Homo sapiens: one gene and its partner. The main gene of each other region encodes a partner of the protein of the gene in region 2 in a complex. Links are inferred from orthologs where the notes say so. Each region holds a gene or a part of one and is shown on either strand. Other genes may lie near its edges. The genes, in order: ABCC9 and KCNJ8.

Region 1 (10,606 bases), 160 kb from region 2:
GTATTGTAAAGTTAGGATAATTATAAAAGTGTAACACTGCCCAAGTAGTCAATAAACAGATCTATATAGCACTATAAAAATTCAAATTTTTTTTTACAAATGAGGTTTTCAAAAAAGCAGACCTCTGAAAGGAGGAAGGAAAGAAGTTAAATGATTGGCATACCTGGGGAGGTCATGTTATACACAGATAATCTTAGGTCTCATCTGTAAAACTAAGACAAGATCCTCTCAGCGTAGATAATGTCACAGAATTACAGGCCAGTGGAGCAGAAAGGTGGAATAGGACTCTCCAGCACAAATGAGTTGAAAATTTATGTCTACACAATATGTGCAAACGTGCACAGAAATGTTTATAGCATTTTTTTTGATAATGGCCAAAACTTAGAAGCAATCCAGATGCCCTTCAGTGGGCAAATGGATAAATAAATGGTGGTATATACAGACAATAGAATATCATTCAGCACTAAAATGAAATGATCTATTTGGCCATGAAAAAACTTAAAGGCACCTTAAATGCAGATTACTATGAAATTATATGGGATATATACTGTGGGGTTTTGATAGCAGGGAAGATTGGGCATATGTGGGGGAAAGATGTATATAGGGAATCTCTCTATTTTCTACTCAATTTTGCTGTAAACCTAAAACTGCTCTAGAAAAATTAGTTCATATTTTTTAAAGTACCTGAGTTCAGAAAATGTAAGCTTTATTTGCTAAAAATATAGAAGCACATTTAAATTTAAAAATTAAATTGAGCTATGATATGGTTTGGCTGTGTTCCCACCCTAAATCTCACCTTGAATTGTAATCCGAATTGTAATCCCCATGTGTTGGGGGAGGGACCTCATGGGAGGTGATTAGATAATGGCAACAATTCCCTCATGCTGTTCTCAACATTATCAGTGAGTTCTCACGAGATCTGATGGTTTTTTAAGGGTCTTTTTCCCCTTTGCTCTGCACTTCTCTCTCCTGCCACCATATGAAGAAGGAATTGTTTGCTTCCCTTTCTGCCATGATTGTAAGTTTCCTAAGGTCTCCCCAGCCATGTGGAATTATGAGTCAATTAAACCTTTTTACTTTATTAAAAAAAAAAAAGAAGTAACTAGAAGATGATGTTTCGAAAAGCCTGAATAAAAAGGGTAAGGAGAAGTCTATACCTAAAGAGTAGAAGAGCATAACACAGAATCAAGGCTGTATTTTTACCTGTTTTTAGGACCTCTTTTATCATGACCACTACAAACAAGTTTCTACCATTAGGATATATCATTATTATTGTGAGTTCAATCTGTGTTTTGTGAGGACCTGACTGAATCTACATATCAACCAGAGGAGTCTTCTTGTCCACATGATGTCAAGTTTCAAAAAAATATTGGATGATCTATCTTCTACTTTATACATACGCATATAAACAGATACAGTAGCCTAAATGCTACTGTATAAAAATTAAGCCTAGAATTGGCTATGCTAGTATAAATAAATATACCAGCATTTTAAACAGTTACCAACAAGATAATATCCAATTAAGCTTCTAAATGTCTGGAGGGATGGCATCTATTAGAGTCTCTAATTTTTCTTTTTATCAGAAATTAAGACATGCACATACCTGCGAAAAGCCCTCATAAAACATTACAAAATAGTTGGTTCCATGACAAATGCTTAGAAGTTTCATTCCTTGTTAATTGCAACAGAAAACACAAACAGATGTCAGGGAGGTTCCAGTTCAATAAGAAGAAAATAAATTTTAGACTTTCCTATCAAAAAATTTAAAGGTCTTCTAATATTAGCTCCTCAATGAAAGTTACACCATTTAGCATAATTTCATAATCAAAATTTACCTATTCTTGAGTTTATTTTGTTACTATATGAGAAAAATATTTTCACCAGATTATGTTCAAGTTTATAAATATAATTCATTATATTTTAACTGTCTAATGAAACATCTTATTTTATAAAAATAACAAAATTCCTTTAAAAATATGGGTTTTTAAAACTATAAAACCCTGGAAGACAACCTAAGCAATACCATTCAGGACATAGGTATGAGCAAAGATTCCATGACAAAGATGCCAAAAACAATTGCAACAAAAGCAAAAATTGACAAATTGCATCTAATTAAACTAAAGAGCTCCTGCACAGCAAAAGAAACTATCAACAGAGTAAAAAGACAACCTACAAAATGGAAGAAAATTTTTGCAAACTATGCATCCAACAAAGATGTAATATCCAGCATCTATAAGGAACTTACACAAATTTACAAGAAAAAAACAAACAACCTCATAAAAAAGTGGGCAAAGGACATGAACAGACACATGTATGGAAAAAAGCTCAACATCCTTGATCATTAGAGAAATGCAAATATAAACCACAATGAAATACCATCTCATACCAGTCAAACGGCTACAATTAAGAAGTCAAAAATAACAGATGCTGGTGAGGCTGTGGAGAAAATAGAATACTTATGCACCATTTGTTGGAGTGTAAATTAGTTTAGCCATTGTAGAAGACAGCGTGGTGATTCCTCAAAGACCAAAAAACAGAAATACCATTTGACACAGCAATCCCATTATTGGGTAATGGGAATATAAATCATTCTATTATAAAGACACAAGCATGCATGCATATGTTCATTGCAGCACTATTCACAATAGCAAAGACATGGAATCAACCTAAATGTCCATCAATGATAGACTGGATAAAGAAAATGTGGTACATATACACTATGGAATACTATGCAGCCAGAAAAAAACAAGATAATTTCCTTTGCAGGGACATGGATGGAGCTGGAGGCCATTATTCTTAGCAAACTAACAGGAATAGAAAACCAAATACCACATGTTCTCACTTGGTAAATGATGAGAACACATGGACACACAGAGGGAAACAACACACACTGGGGCTTTTGCTTTTCAGAGGGTGGAGGGTAGGAGGAGGGAGAGGATCAGGAAAAACAACTAATGGGTACTAGGATTAATACCAGGGTGATGAAATAATCTGTACAACAAACCTCCGTGACTCAAGTTTACCTGCATAATAAACACGCACTTGTACCCCTGAACTTAAAATAAAAGTTTAAAAAATTGGTTTTATTACAAATCTTGATTTTAAAAGTTTTGTGGTTTGCATCAATTTATGGCTCTATCCTCACTGATTCTCAGACTCATTCATCCTGACTCATCTATCTTTGCTTCTTTACAAAATAAATGGAAAAATCTGAGAAATAATTAATATATTAACATAAGTATATAGCTATTAGACCTATGTGTAAATGTAGACAATCTTTCCATTTATACCTATTTTTAACATTAAAAAGTTCAAAAAGACATAAGAACTTCCTGCAAGAGCTACATGGATCAGAGAGCAAAAAATATAAAGCACATTTATGGGCACAAGTTACAAAGATGTGAACTTGTGTAATCAATATACCCACTGGTATACTGCAGTGGTATTATTTAACTTAGATCACTTACGAGTCTGAAACAATGCCTTCTGCTATTTCACAGACATGCACAAACAGGAGAGCGAATGTAAGAATCCATCTCAGGTTATGTCCCGGAAAATGAAGCCATGTGTTGTGGTGAATTTGTACTTTTGAGCTTTGGCTCCCCCACCCTGGAAAAGAGAGAAAAGTTAAAAACAAAAAGACATAAACCGAAGGCTCAATTGTAATAAACATAATTTAAATTATGATAAGCTTTAAGGCAGGGGTGGGGGGGTCCTGAAACCTTAAAACTTTCTAGAGTAGCAATGGAAATCCTAGTCTATTTTCATTATTCAAAAGAATTACAATTAACTTTTACAAGACTACTCAGGCTAACACATTAACATTTGTGGCATTACTCAGGAATAATACCAACTCTGGATGACAACATGGTTCTACCTCATGCTAATCAGAAGCTCTTCCTGACAGCTTTCTGATTAATTCAAAAGGAAATAAGTTGATGATAATAATACATGAAATTTGGTGTAGAAAATCTTTGAAGACATGAAATCTACAAGGGGCTAAATCAAGAAAAGACATATTTGGTTACAAAATACAGGACTCATTAGCTGAGTCAACTCTTAATCATATGCACATCATATGAGAAAAATTGTTATGTATGACTAGGCAGGCACTATTATTCAACAAGTAGTACTGATACTTTTCTCAAAGAAAGCTAAATTTCTTGATGATGAGCTTTTAAGCAAGCTCAAAACCATTATAGGTCCACCGTTAGCTTGCCACTGAAGAAAAAAATTCAAGGTTGTATGTTAGTAAAATTCTGATCGTTTTCTCCCTAAAGTACTATACAGTTTAGTTACTACGTAGAGTAATACTAGGTCATGTAGAGTAATACTAGGTCATGTAGAGTAATACTAGGTCATATGTGGTGTGCTAGTAGGCCCCACTTTTGTCTTGTTTTGTTCTTTTTTCTCATTTTTTGACTGTAGAAAAAAAGCCCCACCTACTTCAAGAACAAATGGGGGTTTGGGCTTGAAATACTGCAGGAAAGAATTTCTGTATAGGCAGCAGATGCCCCTTTTATTTGAAATGAATATTCATGTCTTAGTTGTTTTCAATTTATTCATCATTGGAAGATTAGTTATATTTAATATATTCTACTAGAACTTATGCTGTAAACTCCCATAGGCAAGTTCTATGTCTTTTTTTGCAACCTTATGATTTTCCTAGTACCTGATAGTTTTTAAGATTGATTTATGATCCTTCACTAATTCAAGCAGCCAATGTCATAAATGAAAAGTCTGAATTTTTTCTATTTCCCTTTAACAATGTCCCCTCAAATTCTCTTCTATTCAAATACCCTGGTGCCAGCCTCTTTGCTGGATGCTAGGGATACAAAATGGAATGTCCCTGTTCTTGCTCTCAAAAAGTTAACCAGATGTCAATAACTGGGGAATTATTAATTGTGGAATTACAGTTAAAAAATCCATTTTTCTACTTTTGGCCAAAGGGCGTTCTTCATGGCCTACAAATAATACTACATAAACAAAGACTGATGTTTCTACATATGGCCATTCTGGTCTCAATATATTTAGCATCTGTACATTTGTTCAACATAACTATGTACCAAGAATTATGTTGGCCTGTGTATATACCATATGATGAGTTCTTTAATCCCCCTTAGAATAATGCCAAGCACATAGTATCCTCTCAATTGATATTTGTTAAATGAATAAATAAAAGTGTATGAATGATTTTCAAACATTCCCTTAAAGTAGATCATTAAATTTTGCTAGTTTTCTTAAGAAAATGCATCTGAAAACTTTTTCACTTATTTAATTGGAAAGATACCATACATGAAAAAATTGAACACAATCAACTCAAAATAGTGGTTGTCTCCTGTGAAAAGATAGGAACGTAGGATATGGAAAGAGTCACAAGACCAGGAAATGGTGTGCAGAGAGAGGTCCTTTCATTCTTATTTCTATATTCTTTAGATGAGCGTTGGTAGGCTCAATGGATATTTATTATATTAATGTCCATCATTTTAGGTATCAAAATACTTCATAATTTTAAAAAAGTTAAAGGGTCTGTTTGGGTAAGTTATACAAATTATTCATAATTGCCCCTAATTATCAGATTTTATACATATGTAAACTGTAAAATAATAGACAAAACTGTATTGTTAACTTCTTCCCAAATTCTTTGTGAATGTCCTCTTTCTACATAAAACACAACCTCATCACTCCCACTGTAACTTGCATGCTTGGCATCTTCCAGTTCCCCAGACATGTCACTCACTATCTTCCCCACCACCTCCAAAGAGTGAGTTGTTTCAGCAGGTTAATTTGTTCCTGTGCTTGTAAATAGGCTTACAATGTGGCATAGTCATTTCTCATGACTTTAACACATCTGCCCCACTGGACTATTCCCTGAAGGCAAGTACTCTTTTATTCATTTTCCATTCCCTTTACCTAACCCAAAGTAAGTGCTCAACTAATGCTGTAGATCTATCTCATATATTTCTCTTTCCTTCTTTTTAAAAAACTGCTGCTGCTACCTGAAGGCCATGCCTAAGCAAGCATGTGACCTCAATTTCACCTACGGAAGATCACCTGTCAAAAATATATGTTTGAAAAACACAAAATACTTGCTTGTTCGTTTCTCACAGCCATCAGCTTCCATGTTACAGAAATTAAGTCAACATTATCCCAAATCTCAGCCATTAGCGAGATATATAAACATCAAATGGTATAACATAAGATACTAGATTACTTACCAATAAACAATATTGGAAAAGTGATAAACAACAGAAAGACATGAGGGACCAGGTTGAGGGCATCCACAAAGCAGGAATTTTGTAGTACACCATCGTTGATATTATATGAAGAAATGTTGTTACCACAAAATGAAAGGCTCATTTCTTCTTATATGGTTTACTCTAAAAGGGAGAGAAATGAGAAAGAAAAATCCTCTTATTAGTAAACTCTTGTTCATAAAATTATTAAAGCCTTGAATAGAGGGCTATATCATAAAATTAATCCCTTTTACTTTGATAGCTGAGGAAATAAGAAACTCTGTGCCAAAGCAACTTGAAGCTTTCTTATAAAATACGTCCTATGAGATCTTCTTTTCCATAGCTTTTACTTCCAGAGAAAAATGCTTTCATGTGGAAAATGTATTATAATTAATATCTACCTATAGTAGTACCTCAAATGAGTGTCTGACTAAAATGCTTTCAAAGAACAAAAATGGTCATATATTAAGAAAAAGGAGAAAAAAAATTGAACCAATGACTAAAAAGTCAAAATGGTATAATTTCAAATATTTTCCCATACTCACTGAAAATGTACTAATAAACAACAAAAGTTGTTCAGTAAACTGTGACAGAGTTTGCTGAAACATTTCACTAGTTGTGGGAAATACTAATATACAGAAACAAGTGTGCCTGCAGTAATGGCTAACAGTAATCAGTCTTTCCCTGAAGAATATTAAAAATCAAATGCTCAAGATGAATTAAACCTAACTCAAATGACAAGTCAACGAAACTACTCAGATTCCATAGTTAGAATATTCTCACAAGAAATACACTCTACGCAAGTTTGAAACGCAGGATGTCTTTTAACTGGAAATTGGTACTCCATGAGTAGAAGTAGATGAGTTTAGAGAGGAAACAGAGGACAAGGTCACACTGTGCTTTGTAAGTCATTGTCAGGATTGCGGCTTCTACTCTTAGTGAAGTGGGCCACTGGGGATTCCGGGGCAGAGGAGTGACGTGCTCTCACTTACATGTTAAATGGTTCTCTATTAATGCTGTGCCCAAACAGATGGGAGATGAGCAAAGGTCTGCTCCATGAAAATACTGCTGTGAAATTCCAGGAAAAGCTTTGACATTCTGAAAACTTATTTTATAATGCCTACTACTTATTTAAGTTCTGGGCACTTTGCATATCTTAAATCCTCAGAACAACCTTGTAATTCATCTTTTACAATGGAGGATACTGAGGTCCAGATAAGTTCAGTAACTTGCCAACCAGTAAAGCGGTCATGTCCACACCCAAATATCTGACTTATAAACTATTTCTTTCCACCGTATTACACAACCTCCAACCTGCTTTTTAAAGAAGCTATCGTATCTATTCTTTAAAACAAGTAGCAGTTTAAGATTTTAACCTCACTAGACCTAGTTTCTATATTTATGTCACAATGGATTCTGAGTTGCATTACAAAAGGCTGGCAAAAATTTTATTAACTAGCATAGTACCTTTTCTTTCTTTCCTTTCATTGATAATTGATTTAGCAATGGTCACAAACAATACTTTTCCTAGGAAAAAACAGTGTTATACAGAAAAGATTGTCAATGGTAGGTAAATTATTAGAGAAATCAAATTTCAAGCAAAGGTTTTATAAAGCATTATATGAATGCCTCAGCTAAAGAGTCTGTGTATTTACAATCTTAGATACTTATACAGAATGCCTCTCACATATTGTTCCTGATAAGCTCTTTTTATAATAAATAGTTGATATGCTCTCTAGTTGAGTCTTTCCCTCATCTTTTTTTAAAAAGTTGTATTTTTAAAACCTCAAGGTGAAGTTATACACTGGGTAAATTCTAACAAGCTATTAAGGTATTAATCTGGATAAAAGAATAAAAGGGACTTGAAGTTTTTAAAAAACAGCAAAATGGAAGTTATTAATTTATAGGTGTATGTTAGATGTATTTCTGGCAAAGACAGACAAAAACAAAACTAAAAACTAATAGCTAGTAATGAATTTTTTAGACTACTTCCTTTATTTAGTAGAAATGATAAAAAGAAAACTTAAAGCCCACTCTTAATTGAAAGACATATATAAACTTTCCTCGCACAAACTAGAAAATGATTTTTACTTTAGCAACTTTTATAATCTTATCCAAAATTATAATATTCCAGTTGGCCACATTTATAAACTAGTATCATTGAGGTAGATGCTAAAATATAACCTGCTGCTTTGCAAATTACACCCTTCATTAGCTATAAGCATTGCTTGCCTGGTGTTTAATCAATCCTGAAATCTACCAATTAAATCGCCTTTGGATAAATGTTGTGTGTAACTGGAAAAAAAATCTCAGAGAAGTACAATCACCTGAAAAATTTAAGAACATTTTCAGACATACACCAGATATCTGGAATTCTATGCCATTAACTAATGAACTGTAAAAACACTTATTGATGCTAACTACGTGCTAGTTACTAGGAATCCAATGGTGCACGTCAGAAACAGTTTCTGTGGTTTTATTTAGACTGTATGAATCAGATTACAGTAGTCTCAGTAGCTGTGGGTATATTGTAGGGGTATATGATCTAAAAGATAGGAAAATAAGAAATGATGCAATCAAACAAAAGTGTAAACTTCAAGTTGGTACAGTAAACGCTTTAGAACGATTTTTCTGTCTGCCATAAACTCTAACTTCACATTTCCGGCCGGCTCTGAACCTGTGCATTACCTTACCGCATGTCTCCTTTCACCTTTTCTTTTGACTCCTCATTTATCCTTTCCCTTTAACCCGTAGTCTCCTTATCCAACATCCAGAGTCCATGTGGCACTCTAACAGCCAGCCTCCATTACAACCCAACATGGACAAAAAGAGGGAGGCAGTAAACTTATTGCTGATATATTGATAATTATTGTGTTTATCAAAGGCATTTTATTCAATCCACGTTCCTAATCCTTAAATTTCCAATTGTCATTTAATGTTTCCCTCCCAGACACCAGGTTCAATTGGGAATGTTTGGGGAAGGGTATAAATCGCTGTTCTTGCTGGCTAAACTCTGTCACCTGACATCCTTCAGCTCCACCCCTTCTGGAGCTGTTTAGATTCAGCTAAGCACTGAGGGAGGCCCAAGCATCAAGGAGAGAGAGAGAAGGGAGAGCAGATGGGGAGATATAATGTTTCCCTTTCCACAAGCATAAGCCATCGAAATATGCTCAGTTGTTTATGAGAGGTGATAGAGTTGGAGAACTTGACTGAATAAACTTTAAAAACAAAGATCAAAGTGAAATTTTGCTTCTAACGTATGTCTATGGAGCAGAAAACATAAAATAGAAATACTCCTAATTATCTAACTTACGATTTCATGGCAAGAATCGCACCCTCAGTGTTTTTATTCCTCGAAATGCATTACATGAAATTCCACACATCTAGAACATATACATTTTGGATTTAGTTGGTGAATATAATACCTGACCTATCCAGTCTGTTGGTTCCTCTGCAAGACACGAGCAGTAGTTATCTGATTTAATTCTAAAAACACATTTAAGTGCTGAGGCATATAAGGTACACCATTTATTGTGGCCAGCCCTGTCCTTTGGAAATAGACTACAAGTAAAGCAAGTGAAAACTTGTCTTCCTTCCTGTTCACTTAGCAGAAAGCGTTAGTTCTGATCGAATAGCAATTGCAGAGAGTTTAAAATGCTGGAAACACCTGGAGAAAACATGCTAAATTTAAATAAAAGTTTTCATTCTTACATATAAAAGGATTCATTCTTTAATCGTTTAGAGATTAACCAAATTCTGTTATGAAAGAGAAGCAGGACATTTTAAAGAACTTAGGGCTTTATCATCATCTAGAGCATTTTCAGGATGGATGTCACTTGCAAAAACAAATGCTGTAATCACTTCTTTGAAGTTATTCAGTCCCTAGTTCATGAAATAAAAACTAGAAGATGTATAGCTAGTTAGCTAGCTACCATGGCTATAACTATGACAGATCCAAGTGGGAAAATCACTGGCAAAAATGACCACTGACTTCTGACTTAGTGCCTGATCTGAATCCACCCATTTACTCTTCAGTGGCTGTGAAGTACCATCCCACACCAAAAGAAATGTTGAAATTACTCAGTAGGTATTCCTTAGATACTGCAATGGGATTTTAAAAAAAATCCCAAACTGAACAAATAAAGCAAAAAATAAATACCTTGGGCAATAGCTTCACGCTGCTTCAAACCCCTGCCGGTGCACTTGAGCTACCTTCAAAACACCGACTTCCTACACTGTCTTAAGATGTAAATTTCAAACCCGGACGCAGAACTCCTAAAAAAAAGTAAAGAGTAACAAAAATTAAGCAGATAGAAAACTACTTCTTGAACATACAAGAATTGTCTACAAGAAAGGCGGTAATAATAACT
Region 2 (11,342 bases):
ACCCAGATCAATCAGCAGCCATCAATATCAAGGCTAGCCCCTCCACCAGCAAAAAGACCACATCTTGCAGAAGGCTCAGATGAACATTAGCATTTTTTAGCATTAAAATATTTTTTGAATTGAGATATGTATATTTTTCAGCCATAATGGTATTACACACTTACTAGATTACAATATAATATAAATGTTTTATATGCACTGGGAAACAAAAGGTTTGTGTAACTGTCTTTATTTTGATATTTGCTTTATTGCAATGGTCTGGAACCAAAACTGCAATATCTCTAAGGTATACCTGTAATTAATATTATACTAACTTGAATTTTCTCACTTTGGCCTAATCCTGTGAAAGAAGCAGAGGGAAGGAACCAAGAAGTTGTAGGATTTTCTTGGGAAGCTTTTTCAAATTGCACATCTACTCCCTATCTTAGTGAATAGACATTGATTTGGTAGGCTGAGGTTGGATCTGGGTAAGATGCTTTTGAAAAGTTCTCAGGGGATTCTGATTTACTCCCATATGGGAAGCACCACATTTGTTACTATCAATTTATAACACTTAATTTCACAACAAGTACTGCTGTGGCTTCTTCATAGAAACAATATTAGTTCTATCTTTGCCCCCAACCACAATTTCAAACTTCTCTAACTTTATAGAAGACAAGCCTACACATTAGCAATCTCTCAAAGTATTACCTATTTATTAATGCTACAGACAGCAGGTGAGAAAAATGTTTAAACATTTGAGTACTTGGTATGTACAGTGCACTTTGGTAGAAAATTATGAGGGATAAGCAAGAATACATGGATTATTCTTTTGATTAGCTTTTAAGTGAAGTGCGAAAGTTGCCTTTCTCTTTTGTTGCTAAAATGATTCATGGAAAACTACAGTAATTGCCTATTGCACTAACTACCCACAAAAAGATATCTGGTATAGCCCCAAAACATGGCAAGAATAAAAATGGACCCCAGAGAAGGGGTATGGATACAACACTGATTTCTGATAATGTATCCATACCTCAGAGAGCAGTCTAATGATAAATATCCCAAATAGTTTGTTTTAATGGTTTAAGAGACTATTCATGAGCCACATTTTGTATATTGTTTATGAATTCTAAATATTACATATGGTACAAGACCCAGCTTTTTACTGACACTTGCTATGCTAAACAATCTCAAGAGATAAAAGTGTTTAGCTGTTTCTTTGTTCTGTTACAGAAAGAGGTAGGCTGGATAATATCGAGAAAGAGGAAATATATTGGTCTATTTTTTGACTCATATTAAATGGAGTCAAAGAGACTCCTTGCAGGAGAAAATACATGGAGGAGAAAATGAGTCACCCTAAGAGAAGAATGGTCAAACATTATTTGGAAATACTGGTGAATATTCAATGAAAAATGTTGTTTCCAATTTTAGTGATATGGTTGGACATTGAATTCACAAAGGGAAAAATGCAAAGAATTAGAATTATTATTAGTCACCTTTTACATTCTCATTGGGAGAGAATGAAGATTTTTAAGGTTTGCTGTTACCATTTCTTTTTTCTCTTTTTATCAGTATCATATAATTTAGATTAAAACTTTATTTTGATATGAAAATGATTCACCAATTATCAGTGCCAGTAAGTTTCTTAAAGATATATATTATAGATAATGATATTTGATCTTAGAGTATCTATTGAACGTTTTAACGGATATTTTAAGTATTGTGTTTTCTTTATATCTGGTATACTGATGATCTATGTTTTCCAGCTGCATTTTCTTTGAGACAACAGTTTGTGAGAAGTTTGAAAAAAGAAAATAATATCTAATCAATATTAAAAGCAATAGATCAATTCAATACAGTTTTTGCTGCTCAGAATTTGAGCTGAAATCTGTGGTGTGTGATCTCTGCGCACTAATGCTGCCTTCCTCCTTGAAAGGCTGGCATTGTAGTTCCTTAGCAAATGGAAGGGTGGACAAGTTCACAGTCTGGGGTCCACTTTCTGCAGTGATATGCTAGCTTAATAAGGTTTCAGGGTCACTAGAGGTCCCATTCTTTACAGTTTCCTGGTATCATAATGCTTTTTCAAGTTTCTTTGCTTTGTGAATTATGTGAATTTAAAATGTTCTTTTAAAAATGTTTTGGAAAATTTTCCAGTATTATTACTACTCTTTTGCTTCACAGTGAACATCTTGGTAATTGATATAATTTATCTCTTTCCACCTCCCCCCGAAAAAAACAAAGAAATCACCTCAACTAAATGTTCTTAAACCATGTGAAAGCAAGAGAGGTGAATCACTGAAATCAATTTACCTGTCTTTGAGATACTTATGATATGAGAAAGAAGCCAAAGTTAGGTAATCTAAGAACTATCTTGTCCCTATTCTATTTAAACTTTGAAAGAAGAGTACAAAATTAAATTGCTTCTATATAACCCCTTCCATAAAATTTTGGACTAATTGTCATTAAAAATTAGCAATTTCTAGTTCTGAATCTTAGCATAACTTTTAATTTCTGAATCCAGTGCAAGCAATCAGCTATGTTATGATAATCTCGATAAAGAAGGGATGATATTTATTTCATTTTTTAGTAGATTTTTAATCTAGGACACTCTCCCCCTAGGGCCTTCCCATTTTTTTCTTATTATTTCTGAAAATGTCATGGGTTAGAAGAGTCAAGAAAAATGTCCACTAGCACAATATTTTTTGTTGATCAGAGATATTTACCTGTGGGCACTGAAACTATGGACAACAGCTTTTTCATACTGAACTCAATGTGTGCGCTTTTGGAGTAAAGCACTCTGTGTAATCCTTTGAATTACAATTTTTTTTTGATAACTGGTATAACATTTTCAAGGCTAGTCCAAAGGACTGAAGCTCAGGTTTTCAGAGACTCTTCTCCATAAAGCTGCATTTAAAAAATACTTACTGTGTTAGGTGTTGTTCTTTATTGTGCTTTTTTGTTTCTGAAGATTCTAAAACAAACCCTTTATTTCACTTTCAATTAAATAACAGAATGATAAGAGAAAGGGCATTTTGACATTTTTTCTCTACTGTTTTCAACCCCTGCCTCATCCCACTACATTCTTACCTGACATTAGTCACACACACAGTGGACTCCAAACCACTTTTCTCCATTCCACTTTTCTCCATGTAAGCATAGATGTCCCCATGGGCAAAGGCCACCAGCCACCACATGATAGCGAAGAGCAGCCAGCTGCAGAGGAAGGACATGGTAAAGATGACCAGCGTGTGGCGCCATTTCAGGTCCACCAAGGTGGTGAAGATGTCCTGTAGAAAGCGTCCTTGCTCACGGATGTTCTTATGCGCCAGGTTGCAGGCCCCGCTCTTGGCGATGAAGCGGGCTTTGGGGAGGCGGTCTCGGATGCGCGGCTTGCGCAGGTTCTCTGCGGCGATGCGCGCCAGCACATACTCCTCCGGGATGATACTCTTTCTGGCCAACATCGTCCTGTCACCATAGCCAGCTTAGCCACCTCCCTCTCACCTGCCTCTCCGTCCCTGGACACCCGTCCTCCTGCACGAGGGAAACATTTATTAAAAACTTAAAAACCCACCCTATCCTCACCTCTTGGGTCCTTGTATTCAAGGATATGTCTGTACATGTGCGAGGTGACATGCAAAACCAAAAATGTGATTTTTACTAACCCAAACATGAATCTAGCTTGTGCTTGAGTTCTGGGATCTCAGAAAAATTACTTGGTTTTAATAAAAAGAACTGTTTCAATTTTTCTTATTCTGAGTACATATGGACATAGCCTTAGTTAAACAAAACCAGGAGCCTTCCGGTAAACAGCAGGCTCAAAGATAATTCTCTGCGATTAACCGCGTCTGTAAATTAGTGCAAGGCTACAGCACGTGGCGTCAGTCATGAAGATTAAGACCAGTTGGGTGCACGATCTACTTATTAAAGTACTTAGATGATGTAGCAATATTAAAAGTAAAGAGAGAAAATTCTTCCTCCGTTATTTTTAGAAGTAAGCAAAGGCCATGACTCCTTGCGCAGTCTAAATAACGTGTAATCTGACAAAATTATAATAAGTGGTGTGCTATAGAATTTATAAGTTATAAGAATTATTTTAAATGCGAAAGAAGTATGAGTTGCATCTAAAAAGAGTTAAAAAGGTTCCTGTGGAAATCATAATATTATAAATTGAAAACTTTTTTTTTTTTTTTTTTTTACAACGAAGGAATCAAATATACAAGGTGCGGGGGGGAAAAAACCCAAGACAACAGCCTGCGGGTTGCAGTAGGGAGTGTGCCCCGAAAAGTCCATCCATCACTGCAAGCCTCTGCGGTGTTTTGCATTTTAAATCATTTACGGGAACACGGACAGCCTCCCCCCTCCGCTCCCCCGGAGCAGCTTTGAAACTTACAGACTCCGGGTAGCGGGCGCGGCGGCTGGACCTCCTTGCACACGCCGGCGGGCCGCGGGCAGGTCCCTCGCTCTCCCATGCTGGCGCGCGGGACCAGGGGCCGCCCAGGCCGGAGGGACAAATTGGGGGCTGCGTGTCCTAAGGAGAAGAGTTAAAATAATAAAAGGTGCAACTGAATCTAAACGCAGGGAGGGCTAGAGGAAGGGGGATGGGTGTAGATCTTCCCCTCCCCCTGCTCAGCTCAACTCCCTTGGCCACTTCAGTGGAAGGAGGAGGGACTGGGGGGGCGGGGGCGGGGGGGCGATGCTCCACAAATCAGCCTCCCAGTTAGGGCTTTGACGCACGCCAGACCTCGGAAGCCGACGTTGTCGCGGAGTAGGGGGCGGGCGGGGAGGGGGCGAGCGCAAGTCCCCGGGAGGTAGGGAGCAGGCCAGAGGGAGGGACGACCCGGGGGAGGGCGGGACCTGCAGAGCCAGCTCCTTTCCAGTAGCCGCGACCCCCTGCCGCCAGCGTGACACACAAGTCTTTAAAAGGCTCTCTGCTCAGGGGAGAGAACTTTCTGACTCCAAGTTCACTGACGTAAGGAGATTTAATTTTAATTTTATTTTGTAATCTAGGTAGATAACTGGGCTACTTCATGATAACTGGGCTACTTCGGACTGAATAAAAGCAGAGAGGTCAGAAAATATTCTTCCAAAGCGTTCAAGCTGTGGGCACACACAATTATTTACATTAAATTTCCACCTGCTAGGAGAGATACAGGTGGAAGATGTTCTGAAACCCACTATAGTAAAGTATTTCTTCACCAGCCAAAGCCAGTTCTCAGGGAATTAAACACACACACACCTCAAAACAGCGACTGCCCCCCACCACCCCCGGCCCCTTAAGGAAAAGAAAGAAAAAAAGAAACCACTGACTGGCTCCCAATGAAGAAATTTTACCCCAAACAGGGACGGCCGTTAACACTTCAGCGCTGATAAGGCCAGGTCATTCGGTCCTCAGTAATTGGTTGCTTTCTGAAATGTTGCAGCTTCTTCCTCTGTCTAGATGGGTCTGAATGATAAAACAGCATTTGCGCACAAAAAAGGTTATACAATAAACATCTATAGCTTTTTGAAAAGGAGCCAGCGAAGACAAATGTGCTTTTTCCCACAGGTCAAGCCTCCTGATTTTGGCACTTGCGTTAATGGAAACTTTAATTCTTGGAAGTTCCACGTATTTTCCAAGACTCGAGCCGAAAGTGTATGGAGCATAAACAATGTATTCATTTAATTAGCCAAAGACCTAAAATTAGTCTTTAATGAAGGCAAATTAAGAACTTTTTTTTTCTCCTTGTGGTTAGATCTCCTTAACCCCTGTAAGCCCAGGATCCTAGTTTGTTAGTGGTAGTCCTCCTTTCTACTGTCATTAATTTTTGCAGTAATTTATGTAGTATAATAGTTTTACAAGTCTATGAAGAATCAGTTTGTATAGTCAATTCCCGCCATTGTTCTATTTTACCTTTGACTTTGTACACATTATTATTCATTATTTTAGCCTGGGGAACATTTACTGAACACCTTTGTAAGCTTTTTTTAGGTTTATGTGTCTAGAGATATATAAATATATGTCATAGTTGTTGCTTTTAAGAGGCAGACAGTTGTAGTAAGAGAGATATTCTCTAATACAAGCAGGGATGTGATTAGAATAGGAAAGGAAATTTTAAAATGTCATGGGAATTCAAATGAGAGATATTTAAGAGTAGGAGACTAAGGAAAAATCCATGGATTATTTGGCATCTGATCTAGGCTTTGTAAGCCTAGATATATTTAGGGTATACAGAAAAGCAGAGAAAAGACAGCCCACGTCAGCATTGATGAAGCCAAGTTGGCTACACAGCAGGATTGGACACTTGAGTTCAGTGCTCCCTGGGCAGGCGCTGTTACCACCTACTCTCAATACTTAATGAGATTTTCATGTACTCGTCACACCCATTCCCACCACTCCTGTACCCCCTCCCTTAAACTGGGGACTGCTAGAGGGCAAGGCTGTGACTTGTTCATCTTTGTAGCAAGGCCCTAGCACCATTTAAATTATAAATGGGCTCAAAAAATATTTTTGAATCAATGAATGAAAAATACAAAGTTGAAAAAGCATATTGGGGCCTTAAAAAATGCATAGACAGCCTTAAATGCTCAACAAAAGAAGCTGAGGAGTCCTCAGTATGTAGTGGTAAGCCATGGAAAGATTTTGATCAGAAAACTACACAATAAGAGCCTGTTTTAAGAGGATTGATCCAGAAGCAGAGAATATAATGGCTTTAAGGGTTGCATTTCTTGAGTATAGTCCCTCTGGGCTCCAAAATTCTGTAACTGGCAGAAGAGGGTGCTGGAAACTGTTACATTAATTAGAGAAGGAATGAGGTCTTGGGCTAATAGGTAACATCAGTGGGCACTATACAAATACATACAAAAGGAATGTTATACAGAGTCAATATTGGAAAAGGGAAAAGTCAGAGGTGACTGTGATGTTTATCATAGTAACAGAAAAATAATAAGAAAATTGGAATGAGAAGAGCTGAAGTACTGTGGAGAATTTATGAGAAGATTTGCAACAAAAAAATCCATATCTGAATTCTCTGAAAATTCTGTTCTTTTGGTATAATACATATTTCAGACTCTTTTTTTTCATTGAGATGTATTCTTCCAAATACGCAATTTTAAATCGTTTCAACTTGCTTTCATAACAGAATGTCATATTTTTATTAGTCAGTAATTTAACTTGATTGATTCAAAATCAGGGCACATAATAAAGATCAAATTTGAAGAAATTAATAAGTAAATGTTTGACAATAGTAGGCCTAAGAACAAATAGTAATCATTTTAAATGGTAAAGAATGTGTGCTATAAGAATATTACAGATATATATTTTTCTTTGTATTCCCTTTCTACATTGTTTCCTTAAGCAGTGTATGTCTTTGTCCTTCAACTAGTTTTTCTGCACTAAGTGGAAGCTGCATGAGAGCACATTGTTTAATATCACCACACACCCAGGGTCTCAAATTGTTCCGAGATCCCAAGAGTAGGTACTCAATAAATACTTGTCAAATGAAAAGAAGTAGGAATAGTGTTCAAAACATGGTATTTCTCTCTCTTGCATTTTCTCTCTCATCTCTCTCTACCCTTCATGGTTTTGCAACTATTTCTCAGAACCCACATAGGAAATGTGAACTTTTGGAATTCACTTTGAAGTCTGTTTCTATAGCTGTCTACAAAAATTTTCTTATTCTCACTTTTCTCTTTACTATATTGCTCTACCTTTAAATCAAGCTTGTCCAACACGTGGCCCGCGAGCTGCATGCAACCCAGGAGAGCTTTGAATGCTGCCCAACACAAATTCGTAAACTTTCTTAAAATTATGAGATTTTTTTGTGATTTTTAGCTTATCAGCTATCGTTAGTGTTATTGTACATTATGTGTGACCCAAGACAATTCTTCTTCCAATATGGCCCAGGGAAGCCAAAAGATTGGACACTCCTGCAAAATTATCCATTTCTCCCTTCTTTAGCAACTTCCCTAACTTCCCTAATTGCTCTAAGTCAGCAATACTTAAACTTGTCTGGCATTTGCTAGCTAAGTTTCTCTTTACAACTTGATTTTAAGCTTAACTGACATATACCTCTATCCCCCAAAAGTCTTTCTGGACACATAGTAACTGCTCAATAAATATTTATTATTGACTGACCTCTAGCTCTCCCTCATATTATGGTCCAAACAGTGAACATTTAAATTTGCCTCTGGCTGAGAAATTGGCAAAAAAAAATCAATTAATTTTCAAGAGCACATTTACTACTTAGGGCTTATTTTATTCATCTGCTTATTCAATCACTATATGCTGTTGTCCACTAAAAGTTAGGTATATTTTCTTAACTGTTCAATAATTTTCTTAATTGTTCTTTCAGGAGTGAAGACTAATTTGCACACTACCAGAGGATATCAGTAATAAGTTTAGAACACAGCTAATTTTATTTACTATTATAATTTTCTTGAGTATGCAGGAATCCTGTTAGAATTTACTCATGTTGCAGAAATTTATGCAATTAAAAAGCAATTAAAAGATTTTGGTTCAGTTGTAAGTCAGCATCTGCCAGGTTCCTTTTAGACCCTATGAGCATTTTTCTTTGGGTTTCTGACATTCTCATTCTCTTAAGAAACAAAGCTTGTCAAGTGCCTTTAGACAAGTAGAGAAAATATTAGGTTGATGCTTTTCCTAATTGTCTGCTGCTTTGATTACCAAATGCAAATCAGTGAAGTTTCTGAAAGTACCCTTGAGAGCAAGGGTGAAATTCTTCCAGTTGTTGACTTTGCCTTTGACATGACTTGTAGACTTCAAACTCTTGGATTTCCTGAGCCATATTAGACTTAAAAATTTGGAGGGTCTTCAAAATGGCAATGGAAACGAGTCATGTTAGCTGAACAAATAATGGTTGGTCTATTTGCTTAGTATGCTGCTTTACTAGTGTCCTCGTATAAACCACTTTGGAACATATTGCTTTGGAATCAACTTAATAAAATTGTTACATAAACTAGTAATCAAAACAGCATGTTATAAACTTACTTTTTTGGAGTTATCATGGAATGGGAATGACAGTATAACTCTTCTCAGTTATTTGTTCCAGTGAATTCGGAGAACATTTCTTTTTGAGATATGTATCTATTTATGTGCAGAAAAGCATCACTCTGTTTTAAATAAGGTCACCCCATTTCTTCTTTGCAAGCTCAGCTCCTCATACTTTAGCAAGCTCACAGGTGTGAATCAGAAAGGTCAGGAAAGGAGGCACTCACAACAATAACTACCCTTTGATTTGCATCTAGGTGAGCAAAACAACATCCCTGCTCCAAGGCATTCTTGGGGAGAAAGCTGTTAGCAAACAAGTAATACATTACATAATTATTAATAGTGGTAAAATATATAAAGAAAATAAATTGAGATAAGGATCAAAAGTAACTAGGGCCAGAGATGACAGTTTTAGATAGGGTTCAAAAAAGACCTCTTTAAAACAGTGACATTTGAATAAAGAATCAACTGTATGATCAACTTGGGAAAGAGTGCTTCAGGCAGCCCAAGAGCAAGTGTAAAAGCTTTGAGGCAGGAAATAGTTTGATGTGCTTGAAGAACAATAAGAAAATCAGTATAGCAGATGGATAAGAGGAAAGGCAGAAGAAGAGCTGGGAAAACTGGGAAGTGCCTTCACTGTTCTCTCCATTTACCCAATGAATAAGGATTGGGAGTCTGCCAGGTAACTAGGTTATGAAAATCACTGACCCTAATCCTTGAGACAGTTGCATGAAAATTAGGTTATTTTTCTCATTTTGCACACGAATTGATTAGAATTTAGCAAAATGACTTTCCAAAGTCACTTACCAAGCAAGTAGAAAGCTATGACAGACTCAGAACATCTGATTCCAAATCCTGTGCTTTTCTTACTAGACAATATCTCAAGGAGATGATTGTCCAACTATGGTCCAGCTGCACGAGAAACACCTGGTAATATGATTTCATGCCCCACCAGACTTCTATTGAGCAAGGATAGAATAAGAAGTATGATCTTTGGCCCAGAAATTAAAATATCTTTAATGAAAAGGTATAAACACTTCTAATAAAATAAAGCACATTTAAAAGTTATCCTGGAGATTCTCTTGCCCAGCCAGGTATTAGAACCTCATAGAATTATTTTTAGGGCAAGATGAGATAATATAAGATGCTTAGGATAGTTCCTGGCCTGTGATAAGTACTTAATAAATATCAACTCATTAATATCTTAGGGCTGGTTTTAGTTTGGTGATGGTCAAGAAGGTCTCAGAGCAGGCTGTGGGGGTAGGAAGGAAAAGCTACAGCTCACAGATTTATTTTATCATTTTATAGACCTGAATATTTTTGAGATCTTACCAACCCTCAGAGTGCTATTATAACTAACCAATACTTGTACTACCGTCTCCTCAACTCTTGAACTTAATTAAGACACTGGGGACTAAAAAGGAGCCAACCAAGATACTGGTAATAAAATAAGGACTCAGAAATCAACACATGTGTTTTACTGTAATAGTGTTTCCAAGAGAAAAGTAGTTCCTTCCATCAAAGAAAGAGTACCCATGCTGATTATGTTCTACTGGTAGGCTACAAAATACTAATTATAAATAAAGCTAGTAGGCCCTCTCCCAAGAGAAGATGAGAAATAGTGGCTGTCACTGTTGATTTTTTTCAGGGCCTGAAATTATGCTTTCATGTTCTCATGCCAAAGAAAGGTAAGTTCGCGTGAGCCTGGGATCTGTCCTGCCATAGGAATTCTTCACAGGAACTCTTCACAGGATTTCTGAAACTCAGGGAAAAAGCAATTCCCAAGGATCACCTGATCCATTGCTATGCTTTCATGTCATTATGTTTTGCCAAAATTAGTGACTCACGCAATGCTTGGAAAGAGAAACCTGACATTTTCCAGAACTCTCTGTAGAGCAGGTCCTTATTGCCACCTTTCAAAACTGTCAGCTATAGAAAGGATTATAGAGGTTGAAAGTTTTAAAGTGATATTTAGACTTGTTGGGCCCAATGAAGCCAGGATATTTTTTCTGCTGTTAAATGATTTTTTTTTAAGGTAAAAATGTTCTGTGCCAGAAAAACTTTCACCAGGTCATTTTTTCTAAACAAGTTCACACTGGAATTACATGTTTGAGAGTTGTGTCTAATTTAAAATGTCAAATTACCTCATTTTTTGTTAGAATTGATGGGATAATAAAATGATCTCCTCTTGAAATTTATTATGGATTTGAAAGTCAATCTTTCTTTAAAAAATTGAGAAATTATGGGAGATGCATGAGCTATAGTATAACCTTCCATTTAAGTTCACAGAGGTTTACAGTCAGAAAGACGAGATCAGGTGCCAGTTCTGCCATTTACTTGGTTGATGACTTTGAATAACATACTTAACGACTCTGAG

The links.
Region 1: the proteins of KCNJ8 (region 2) and ABCC9 are in contact, whole or in part, in a cryo-EM structure (PDB 7MIT), measured with the Rattus norvegicus proteins. The link is inferred for Homo sapiens from one-to-one orthologs. Residues at the interface, in NP_058795.3 of Rattus norvegicus: Met1, Leu2, Lys5, Ile7, Ile8, Pro9, Glu11, Tyr12, Val13, Leu14, Ala15, Arg16, Ile17, Ala19, Glu20, Asn21, Leu22, Leu45, Ala46, His47, Lys48, Asn49, Gly54, Arg55, Phe56, Leu57, Asp59, Ile60, Thr62, Thr63; in XP_038963045.1 of Rattus norvegicus: Phe5, Ile10, Tyr13, Asn14, Ile15, Val19, Asn22, Cys24, Phe25, Ala28, Leu29, Val32, Val35, Phe36, Phe39, Phe42, Pro43, Ile44, Phe46, Ile47, Gly48, Trp49, Gly50, Ser51, Lys55, Gln57, Ile58, Asn129, Phe130, Lys132.

Annotation. Positions count from the first base shown.
Region 1 is NC_000012.12:21,930,315-21,940,920, forward strand, and holds part of ABCC9 (ATP-binding cassette sub-family C member 9), read right to left. Parts: intron 10,512-10,606; 5' UTR 10,396-10,511; intron 7,764-10,395; exon of another isoform or gene 7,704-7,763; intron 6,381-7,703; 5' UTR 6,361-6,380; coding exon 6,219-6,360; intron 3,610-6,218; coding exon 3,468-3,609; intron 1-3,467. UniProt on the Homo sapiens protein: Subunit of ATP-sensitive potassium channels (KATP). Can form cardiac and smooth muscle-type KATP channels with KCNJ11. KCNJ11 forms the channel pore while ABCC9 is required for activation and regulation.
Region 2 is NC_000012.12:21,770,177-21,781,518, forward strand, and holds the start of KCNJ8 (ATP-sensitive inward rectifier potassium channel 8), read right to left. Parts: upstream 4,531-11,342; 5' UTR 4,370-4,530; intron 3,511-4,369; 5' UTR 3,441-3,510; coding exon 3,067-3,440; intron 1-3,066. UniProt on the Homo sapiens protein: Inward rectifier potassium channels are characterized by a greater tendency to allow potassium to flow into the cell rather than out of it.